Homo sapiens: one gene and its partners. The protein of the gene in region 1 purifies or fractionates together with the protein of each later gene. This does not show direct contact. Each region holds a gene or a part of one and is shown on either strand. Other genes may lie near its edges. The genes, in order: PDK3, UBR7 and ACAP2.

Region 1 (3,823 bases):
CTTATTTGAGACACGGTCTTATTCTGTCCCCCAGGCTGGTGTGCAGTGGTGCGAATCATAGCTCACTACAGCCTGGAAGTCCTGGGCTCAAGTGATCCTCCCGCCTCAGCTTCCTGAGTAGCTAGGACTACAGACCCACACCACCACACACGGCTAATTTTACCTTTTTAAATTTTTTGCTGAGACAGAGGTCTCACTATGTTGCCTAGGCTGGTCTTGAACTCCTGGCTTCAAGAGATCATCCAGCCTCAGCCTCCCAAAGTGTTGGGATTACAGGCGTGAGCCACCACACCCAGCCCAGAACTTACCATCTTAACCATTGCTACATGTACAGTTCAGTGGCATTGAGTACATTCACGCTGTTGTGCAAGCATCACCACCATCCATCTCCAGAAGTTTTTCATCTTTCCACCTGAAACTTTGTACCCATGAAACAATGCCTCCCCATTCCATCTTCGTCGCTAGCCCCTGGCAACCTCCCTTCCACTTTGTGTCTCTGCATTTGACTACTCTAGGTACTTCACATAAGTGGAATCATAGTATTTGTCCTTTTATGTCTGGTTTATTTCACTTAGCATAATGACTTCAAGATTCACCCATGTTGCAGCACATATCAGAATGTCCTTCCTTTTTAAGGCCAAATAATATTCCATTGGATGGATAGATCACCTTTTATCTTGATTGATCATTTTAACTTATTTTTCAGTTTCAACCTACAACGTTTATGAGGACAAACTGCAAACTTAATTGCTTTTTAAATAAAATTGATGGCAGGCCAAATCCCTGCTTGCTGTTGTGAATACCTCTACACTGCAAGAATTCCTGGAACAGTGAGTGGGACACCTTTATTCAGACAAATCAGATACTTTGTAATGGAAATCAAGGTGGTATATTACTGTTTTGCTTTGTATTTTGAAGCATCCCTGGGTTCACTGCTGGGATTGCTCCAATCATCGGCTTCAGGCGTGGTCTTGTAATGGCGCCATGCGGACTTATTAAAAACTGGAAGTCTCTCAAATGACTCACTTGAAAGAGCCTATTGGAGAAACAAAAATATACACCAAAGGTCGACAGTGTCATTTTTCTCAAGTGAAATAGTAACCCAAATTTTATTATTTAAAACATCAGAAACCTTAATACATATTTTCAAAATGATATTAAAATTACACCTTAGTAGTTTACTTAGACTGGCCAGGAAAACATTAAAGCTTTTTTAAAGGAATGAAAACATTTGCTCATTCAAAATCAGAACTGAAATACACATGACCAGAACAAAACATATTTTAATTCAGCTCATACTGCTTTGAGATGCTCAACTGTTTTGACTATACCTGGTGACTGGTCTCACAAAGGGCCCAGGAAGAGATACAGTCTCATGCATCCCAGGTTTATAAACACACACCATCAAGTATATTAAATATCGCATTACTTAGATGCATGGGCATCTAAGATAAATACTCCCAGTAACTGGTTAAATTCTGGTATCACATACATAGGTTGAGTATCCCTTTGAAATGCCTGGGAACAGGCCGGGCACAGTGGCTCACACCTGTAATCCCAGCACTTTGGGAGGCTGAGGCAGGTGGATCACCTGAGGTCAGGAGTTCGAGACCAGCCTGGCCAACATGGTGAAACCCTGTCTCTACTAAAAATACAAAAAATTAGCCGGGTGTGGTGGCTCACACCTGTAATCCCAGCTACTCAGGAGGCTGAGGCAGGAGCATGGCTTGAACCCAGGAGGCAGAGGTTGCAGTGAGCCGAGATGGCAGTACTGCACTCCAGCCTGGGTGACAGAGTGAGACTCTATCTCAAAAAAAAAAAAAAAGAAAAAGAAAGAAACAAAAAAAAAGAAAAGAAAGAAAGAAATGCTTGGGACCAGAAGTAGTTCTGATTTTTTCCGATTTTGGAATATTTGCATTGTGCTTACCTGTTAAGCATCCCTAATCTGAAAATCTGAAATCTGGGGTGCTCCAATAAGCATTTCCTTTAAGCTTGACCTTTGAGCAAGCATCACGTTGGCGCTCAAAAAGTTCCAGATTTTCAACCATTTTGGATTGCAGATTCTTGGGTTAGGGATGCTTGACCCACAGTGGCATGTTATGCCACTGTTTAAAAGAATGAGCCAGTTCTACATAAATGGATCTGGAAAGATCTCTAAGACAGATTGCAAAGTAAAAAAAATAAGAAGGTGCTGAAATTTCATTTATGTGGGAAAAATTCTATTTTTCCCATATTTATAAATGTAGAATCAACTCTAGGAGGATCCATAAGACGCTGAGACCGGTGGTGATCTTCGCTGAACAGAACTGGCGGTTTAGGGCCAGTGGGAGGAGAGACTTCATTTTTCCTTTTGTAGCTTTTAAATTTTTATTATGTGCCTATATTACCTATTCAAAAAAATGTTACAAATATTCTAGAGTTTAGAAATAAAAGCCCAATGATCACCAATGAATAAGAAAAACTGTGTTACAGAGAAGTTTGTTATTAAATGAATCTTTTACATAACCATATTATGATTACTGAATTCTTGTAGCTTTGGGAAAGCCAGTGAGTTTTTAAAACAAAAGACCAAAATACTTCAGTTTATGAAAATCTGCCTTCTTTTAGATCAGACCTTTCAATAGGCATGTAGTTTTTTAAGTCACAATTTAAAATTATGGTTTTAAAAATCAGTATTTTAATTTTTTTTTTTCTCTTTTGAGATGGAGTCTCATTCTGTCGCCCAGGCTGGAGTGCAGTGGCACCATCTTGGCTCACTGCAACCTCTGCCTCCCGGGTTCAAATGACTCTCCTGCCTCAGCCTCCTGAGTAGCTGGGACTACAGGCGTGCACCACCACATCAGCTAATTTTTTGTACTTTTAGTAGACATGGGGTTTCACCATGTTGGCCAGGCTGGTCTCGAACTCCTGACCTCAGGTGATCCACCCACCTCAGCCTCCCAAAGTCCTGAGATTACAGGCATGTGCCACCACGCCCGGCCAAAATCAGTATTTTAATTTCTATACCTCCACGTTTCATATTTTGCTTTATCTGAGCATAGAATCAAGCGTGAGGCATAACATGGTTTTCATGGGAAAATGAAGTAAATCTGAGATGAATCTAAGAGATGATACAGTGCTGTTCTCAATCAGCGATTAGAACTTACAGCTTTAAAAAGCAAAGATGCCTCATACTAACAAATAAAACGCAGTACCTTCAAATAAATGACAGCATCAGTACCCACTCCTTCCATGGAATACAGTTTCAGATCTCCTTGAAAATATCTAGCATACAGACGGGAAATTGGCAAACCATAACCAAATCCAGCCTATTGAGAAAAGAAAATTAATACAGTGAGACAGGCACAAATGCTAACACATTTTATATGATGACCATTCAGAGAAGGTTAAAATAAATTCTTGATTCAGATTTAAATCAAATAAATTACTGACTCAACCTTTACAATGATGTATATCCTCTTCTATGGCAAACAACCCCTTTATTTTCACCCTGCAAAAACATGTCTTATATGTTTGGATAATAATAGAAATATTCTAATTTTTGACTAATGCTTTTTTAGCATTTTAAAGCAAAATTTTATCATTTTTTTAAAAGCACATTCCAAGGCCGGGCACAGTGGCTCACGCCTGTAATCCCAGCACTTTGGGAGGCTGAGGCAGGTGGATCACTTGAGGTCAGGAATTCATGATCAGCCTGGCCAACATGGCGAAACCCCATCTCTACTACAAAAATTAGCTGGGCGAGGTGGTGGGAGACTGTAGTCCCAGCTACTCAGGAGGCTGAGGCAGGAGAATCGCCTGAACCCAGGAGGTGGAGGTTGCA
Region 2 (3,500 bases), on another chromosome or scaffold:
CAGTGGTTCACAGGAAACCACTAGAGGAGAAAATACCCCCAAACCCTTGATTGAAGGCTTTTACATCCCCCCACCACCACCCAGCTGCAGCAGGCCAAACTTATTTCAGTGGTTTCTATCCCAGCCATTTCCACTTGGATGCCACCACTTTTATGTGACTTTTATAGCATCAGTCATTTCTGTCTTTTATTATTTATTTATTTATTTTGAGACAGGGTCTTGCTCTGTTGCCCAGGCTGGAGTGCAATGGTGCATTCTCAGCTCACTGCAACCTCTGCTGCCCAGGCTCAAGTGATTCTCCTGCCTCAGTCTCTCAAGTAGCTGTGACCACAGACGCATGCCACTGCGCCCCCCCAATTTTTTTTTTTTTTTTGAGATGGAGTCTCACTCTGTCACCCAGGCTGGAGTGCAGTGGCGCGATCTCGGCTCACTGCAACCTCTGCCTCCCAGGTTCAAGTGATTCTCCTGCCTCAGCCTCCCAAGTAGCTGGGATTACAGGCACCTGCCACCATGCTTGGCTAATTTACTTTGTATTTTTAGTAGAGACAAGGTTTTACCATGTTGGCCAAGCTGGTTTCGAACTTCTGACCTCAGGTGATCTACCTGCCTTGGCCTCCCAAAGTACTGGGATTACAGGCATGAGCCACCATGCCCAGTCCCCACTAATTTTTGTATTTTTAGTAGAGTCAGGGTTTCACCATGTCACCCAGGCTGGTCTCGAACTCCCGAGCTGAGGTGATCCACCTGCCTCAGCCTCCCAAAGTGCTGGGATTACAGGTGCAAGCCACTGCACCTGGCCGTGTCTTTTATTTATAATTATTAATTTCTTTTTGCCTTTATTAGAGTAAAAACTTTTCAAGGATAGAGGATGCACCTAAAAGATACTTGTAGCCCTCAAGGTACCTTGTACATAATATAAACTGTTAAGTGAGTCAGTTTGCTTGGGCTGGGCGCCATGGCTCACGCCTGTAATCCCAGCACTTTGGGAGGCCAAGGCAGGTGGATCACCTGAGGTCAGGAGTTCAAGACCAGCCTGGCTGACGTGGTGAAACCCTGTCTCTACTAAAAATATAAAAAAGTAGCCAGGCATGGTGGCGCGTGCCTGTAGTCCCAGCTACTCGGGAGGCGGAGGTTGCAGTGAGCCGAGATCGTGCCACTGCATTCCAGCCTGGGTGACAGAGTGAGACTCCATCTCAAAAAATAAAATAAATTAAATTAAATTAAATATTCAACAAGTCCAAGGTTATTTCAGCTACCAGAATTCCAGAGAAATAGGAAGCCCTTTTAAAAATTCTTAATCTTTATGGGATTAGGATATCTCTGCTTTTTATGCTTTTTAAAAAATTTTGCTTTTTTTTTTTTTAATGAAAAAGGGTCTCATATCAACATGGTAGACGTACAGATAATTTGGGAACGAGTTTCTATGCAGCTTTCACTTAAGAAAATTTTTATTTAGACTACATTATTAACAGACTCAGGTGTCAATGGCAAAGAATATTTTGTTTTTGAAAGCAAATGGTTTATCTAAACTTAAATACTTTTGTGGTTTTGATTTAGAATACAATGATTTGAAGACTGAACTTAAAGACTATCTCAAGAGATTTGCTGATGAAGGCACGGTATGTTGAGTTAAAGAATTCTAATCATAGCCCTGTAAGTTTTGAATGAAGGGTTTATTTCCTTTGACGATTAAAAATGACTGCGACTGGCGGGGTGCGGTGGCTCACACCTGTAATCCCAGTACTTTGGGAGGCCAATGTGGGTGGATCACAAGGTCAGGAGTTCAAGACCAGCCTAGCCAATATGGTGAAACCCCATCTCTACTAAAAATACGAAAATTAGCCAGGCGTGGTGATGGGCGCCTGTAGTCCCAGCTACTAGGGAGGCTGAGGCAGGAGACTCACTTGAACCCAGGAGGCGGAGGTTGTAGTGAGCCGAGAACACGCCACTGCACCCCAGCCTGGGCGACAGAGCAAGACCCTATTTCAAAAAAAAAAAAATGACTGCGACTTAAGTGGGTACTTGAGAGTTGAATTCAGGGACTGTTTTGAGCAAATTGGCAGGCTAAGGGGAATGAATAAGAGGTAGTGAAACATCAGAGTTACATTGGCAGTCCTTACCAACCCCAGCTAAGCCGGGAAGAATGATGGGAGGGCGCAGTCCCACAGCCTCTGAGAGAGTACTTGTAGCTTAGCAGAAGGTCATTGGAAGGAATCCGCAGTACTGATTCTGCTGGTCCTGACCTTGAAGCATGGATCTTTGGGACGGGGAGGGGAAAATGACTGGACAGGAAAAATTAACACCAGACCCAGTTTCTGGAATTCTAAGTTCCATGGTTTAGAATAGAAACTGGGCATGGTGGCCGGGTGCAGTGGCTCACGCCTTAATCCCAGCACTTTAGGAGGCTGAGGTGGGTGGATCACCTGAGGTCAGGAGTTCAAGACCAGCCTGGCCAACATGGTGAAACCTTGTCTCTACAAAAATACACAAATTAGCTGGGTATGAGGGCGGGTGCCTGTAATCCCAGCTACTCCGAGGCTGAGGCAGGAGAAACGCTTGAACCCCACAGGTGGAGGTTGCAGTGAGCCAAGATTGTGCTATTGCACTCCAGCCTGGGTGACAGAGCAAGACTCCATCTCAAAAAAAAAAAAAAAAAAAAGAACTGGGCATGGCGGCTTGTACCTGTAGTTTCAGCTACTTGGGAGGCTGGCTTGAGCCCTGCTTTCTTAGAAGATGTCATCTCTGTCTACCTACTTTAGGTCATTTTTTCCTTTTTTTTCTTTTTTGGGGTGGGGGGCGTTCCTGAGTTTATTTGGGGCACACCCGGGCGAGGGCCCTGCCCCTAGAAGAACGTGTTGGGCCTCTTGGTGGTGAAGCGTGGCTTGGGCTGACGGGCAGGACCCGGTGGGGCAGCGGGAAACTTGATCTTGGAGTCGTGGAACTGCTTGATGGCCGGCCGGCTGGCGGCACTTGCTGGCTGCGATCTCCTTCACCTTCAGGATCTCGATGGAATGGGCCCAGGTGCGGTGCCAGGCGCCCATAGACCTCTCGGTAGCACTGGGTAACAGCGCCCGCGGTGGTCAGGTCCCGGTATTCCCGGTACATGTTGGGGGCGCCGCTCCGGGAGTCATAGCTCAGCCAGATGCCGAAGTTCTTGACCCGCGGTGGGGACTTCTCAAACACCTGCCCACAGTAGACAATCTCCCCTGAAGACTTCTTCATCTTTTTTAACTGAGATACGAAGTACCAGAAGTCCCGGGACTTGGCGACAACGTGATTAGGCGCAAAGATTCGCATGTGGTAGAGGGGCGGTGTGTGGCATTTGGGGGTGGGCAGGCAGTGACCCACCACCTTGTACTCTCATAGTGTGCCCGAGGCCTTCATGGCGTCCTCTCCGCGCTCGCCACCACCCGCAAAAGGTTAGGTCGTTTTTTTCTTTGTCATAGATGTGGGAAGAACATTTAACTGCCTGAATTTCTGGACAGGGTCACAGTGCTGCC
Region 3 (3,823 bases), on another chromosome or scaffold:
CATAGTAATAGGATTATGGAAAAACTATAAAAAATTAAGAATATGAATAATGAAACTTCTATTTCTCGGCAGTCTTCCCTCTATTGCAAATCTAATTTGTCCCCAAAATGTATATAAGATGTTGAAGTTATTGAAATTTTGGCATCTCTTCCCAATTTGCAGCTAACAATAATTGGAATATGGGAAACAACTCCTGAAAACCTGTAATATTTTAATTAACATAGAATTTATGTTACAATCAAGTTTAACAAAAGTTCACTATAATATTCCCTACAACTTAATCAGTATGTTGCCCTCTTATTTTATATTCAATGATTTCTTTATTTCAAAAACAAAGACATCACATGGTTTGTGACCAACCCCAGTAGCTAGAAGTATTTCCAAATCACTTCTCTCAACTTAAAAAAAAAAAAAAATTAATGTGAAACAAAGGGAGTTCAAAGCTACATCTTCTAAGGGAAAAATGCTGTGATTATTTCACTTAAAAATAAATAGCTGAGTCATAGTAACAAAATTTCACAAAAAGCTGAACTTTCTAAGGTGCACTTTAAAAATTACTCCACTTGCCATGCTGTCCTGGAAACCAACCTGCACGCCTGTCCTAGGAAATCTATTTGTGTCTCTTGAGTCCTTCAATAATGCAGAACATAAAAGTTTCAAAAATGAATCGCAACAACAGCTATCAAAGGAAGTGGGTTTTTTTAAATAATAGCCCTAGGCTCCAATAAAATTAATACCCAAAAATCATCAAAGGGCAAACGCAAAAAGCGTTCTTAAATTTTCTCTAAGTAGCAGTTCCTTAGTTTTACAATTCTTTTCTTTTTCGCTGAAAGGAGAATAAGAAATCCAATTAACAGTGTTAAGGATGAGAACAGTTAGTTCCCAGGCAGAGGATGCAATTTACAATCCAGGCTTGGCCCAGACATTAGCGGGCACACACACGCCAGTGCTCAGAGGAAGCTTCAAGAAATGTCACTATCTAACGGAAGTGTTAAGGCCTTATATTTGTAAGGACTATGACCAGCCCTGTAAATAAATACACTGTAAAACGCAACCTAGAAAAACTCCATTGTCCAAAACAACTCAAGACTTTCCTACTATCCTCAAAACAGAAAGAACCTGTGTCCTGGACGGCCTCAGGACGACCGCCTCTCACATAGAAAGAAGGGCAACCCATGTGAATCGGAGTGCCCCCATGTCAACTCTGTGACAGATCCACTGGGAGCATCCGACTGTGATCCGGGCCCTCCTGGGCAGAGGCTGCTGGAAGAGGAACACACAGGCAATCTTCACGGCCCTCCTACTTCCGTTCTCAAAACAGAAATGCACTTTTCTGCTAGTCCTCCGCCCTCAGCCCGGTACCTCTCGACAGCTGTGCCCCCTTCAACGAGCTTAAGTGGAAAGAAAAGCAGGTAGTCACCAACTAGGGTCCACGGAATGCGGTTGATCACAGCGCTTCCCCCCGCGATTCCCGCACGCATCCACCGCGGGCGCCCTCCGGAGAGTCGCTCTGGCCGGGGGCACCGCGAAGCAGAAGTCGGCGTCCCAGTTCGCCCCCTACTCTCTCCTCCCCGGGGAAGGGGGGCAGAAAAGCGCAAAGAGGAACTAAATGAACTGCAAGAGGATGCCCTGAAAGCTCCCTCAAAGAGGGGGTGGGGAGGGGGTGGAAACCAAGAAGGGGCGGAAGGAAGGGGGAAGGAAGAGCAGCCAGAGGAGGAAGGGGGCGAGAGCGAGCGCCCGCGAAGGGGACGGGACTTCGGGAGCGCGGCTGCACCCCATTTCCCCCAGCGGGAGAGGGTGCGCCGGCCTTCGGGGCGCTCCGCCCCGGCAGAGGGCAAGGAAAGAAATGAGAGGCGACGTCCCCGTCCCCGCCACTTCGTCGCCCCTCGGGAGGGCTCGGTGGGGACTGCAGTGCCCTCGCAGGGTGGGAAACGGCGGCAACAGCCGCTCGCCCCGTCGGAAGGAGCGGACGGCGGGGCCTCCTCCGGGTGCGCGGGCCCGGCTTTCACGCCCCCAGCGCCGGGAAGGCAGCTCCGCGGTGACGCCGGGCGGCCGTGCCGGTTACCTGAAGCGGGGCGAGTCCTTCAGACACTCCTCGAAATCCACAGTCATCTTCATCCTGCCTCCGCCTCGCAGGCGGCGCTGGCAAAGCCGAGGGGGCCGCGGGAGCGGCCGCGCTGGGACGCAGACGGCTACGGCGGGCGCACGGCCGCGACTAGCGTTGCGCGGAGCTGCGAAGGGCGCCTCGCCCGCTGGTCATAGCAGCCGCGAAGACGGCGACGACTAGTCAGGCCCCAGTCCCGCCCCTCTTCCTCCCGCCCCAAGTAGAGCGCTGGCCGCAGGGAAACGGCCGGGGAGTGACAGCAGCGGCCAGCCAGCCACGAACCTGGCGGCCAAGGGGCGGGGCATCCGGCAGCACCGCCTGCGGGCGCCCGGGCAACGGGTCTGAGCGACGGCAACCCGAGCCAATGAGCAGCGCGACCGTGGGCACCTCCTTGCCACAACCGCCCCCGAGGGCCAACCGGGATGCGCGGGCGTCGCTAGGCGGGACGCACCGGTTGCTGGGAGGCCGGCAGCTGAGGTTCCTTGGGAAGGAAGTCACGTGGCTGCGGCCGCGCTTCCCTCCGAGCCCCCGCCTCTTCTCCTGCTCCCCGAGCCCCGCCCTGCTGAGCTGCCAGCCCAGAGGAGCAGTCTCCTGCAGGTCTGAGGAAGGAAATTTGCTTTTCAAAGCAGATTGGCAGAAATCTGAAGAGGTTAGAGGCAGAAATTATAAAAGGAAGAGATAGGCTAAGCCACCTATTCCTTTCAGTTTAGAGAAACTGAGGCCAGAAGAGGAGCGAGGATAACTTTAGTGATAAAATCCATCTTTCATGTATTTGTTCCATAGCTTCATAATCTGGAAATTGCTCCCATGTACATCTTCTCATATAGCCAGAGACCACTTCCTGAAGGAGCTGCCGTTTGGGTTGGACATAGAAAGATTTAGGCAGGTATGGGAGGTAGGGTGCTTCGTGTGGAGGAACTCCTCTCAAAACTGCCGAAAGCATTCCCCCTCACTGACACTTTGCTCCTGGTGGTTTTCACTGTTCTGCCATGGTGGGGTTCTGAAGACCAGGCTCATCGTACTCACCTTGCAACACCTGCCCCTCTAATCCACACTTTTTCTAGAAGCACTTTAAGATACTTATCATCTGATCCTCACGGCAGGTATTTACCATACTCCTTCATTTTAAGATGCCATTGATTGTAAAAAGTACAAAGATGTCTTATATGTAATGAGTAATTTTTAAGCCAACCTAAAAAACACGGGCGTATCTATAAAAATGAATATACAGGGTGTTCTAACAGCATAGTGGCTCTGAGTGAGAATCTGGAGGCAAACTTCCTGGATTTAGGTCCCAGCTTTCTCACTTTAAAATGAACATAACACACAGATCTGATGAAGTTGTCCGGTTAACACAGTGCCACATATCGATCATTCAGTAAATGTTGGCTATTTTAATTGTACCATTTGCCTCTTCAGTACTATAATCAAAGGGCTTAAGTCTAAGTTCTCTCACTTTCACTGTCTGAAGTTTTTGTTTGTCTCAAAAACAATCAAACAATTTCGTTCCGTTCCCCAGGCTGGTCTCAAACTCATGGCCTCAAGTGATCCTTCTGTCTCAGCCTCCCAAAATGCTGAGATTACAGGTGTGAGCCACACACCCAGCCTTCTAAAGTCTTAATATAACTTTCTGACCGTCTGGCTAAGTATAGCGTGATGACATACTGTTTTTCGTAACCCATCAAGAGATATCTTGATCTCTTTAGCATCTTTAGAAAT

What was found.
Region 2: the proteins of PDK3 (region 1) and UBR7 purify together in Homo sapiens (affinity purification with mass spectrometry; one large-scale study listed by BioGRID and IntAct). This does not show direct contact.
Region 3: the proteins of PDK3 (region 1) and ACAP2 purify together in Homo sapiens (affinity purification with mass spectrometry; one large-scale study listed by BioGRID and IntAct). This does not show direct contact.

The regions. Positions count from the first base shown.
Region 1 is NC_000023.11:24,531,142-24,534,964, reverse strand, and holds the end of PDK3 (pyruvate dehydrogenase kinase, isozyme 3 isoform 2 precursor), read right to left. Parts: intron 3,309-3,823; coding exon 3,195-3,308; intron 1,037-3,194; coding exon 893-1,036; 3' UTR 543-892; downstream 1-542. UniProt on the Homo sapiens protein: Inhibits pyruvate dehydrogenase activity by phosphorylation of the E1 subunit PDHA1, and thereby regulates glucose metabolism and aerobic respiration. Can also phosphorylate PDHA2.
Region 2 is NC_000014.9:93,220,756-93,224,255, forward strand, and holds part of UBR7 (putative E3 ubiquitin-protein ligase UBR7), read left to right. Parts: intron 1-1,557; coding exon 1,558-1,619; intron 1,620-2,793; exon of another isoform or gene 2,794-3,420; intron 3,421-3,500. UniProt on the Homo sapiens protein: E3 ubiquitin-protein ligase which is a component of the N-end rule pathway. Recognizes and binds to proteins bearing specific N-terminal residues that are destabilizing according to the N-end rule, leading to their ubiquitination and subsequent degradation.
Region 3 is NC_000003.12:195,440,730-195,444,552, forward strand, and holds the start of ACAP2 (arf-GAP with coiled-coil, ANK repeat and PH domain-containing protein 2), read right to left. Parts: upstream 2,292-3,823; 5' UTR 2,119-2,291; coding exon 2,066-2,118; intron 1,548-2,065; exon of another isoform or gene 1,421-1,547; intron 1-1,420. UniProt on the Homo sapiens protein: GTPase-activating protein (GAP) for ADP ribosylation factor 6 (ARF6). Doesn't show GAP activity for RAB35.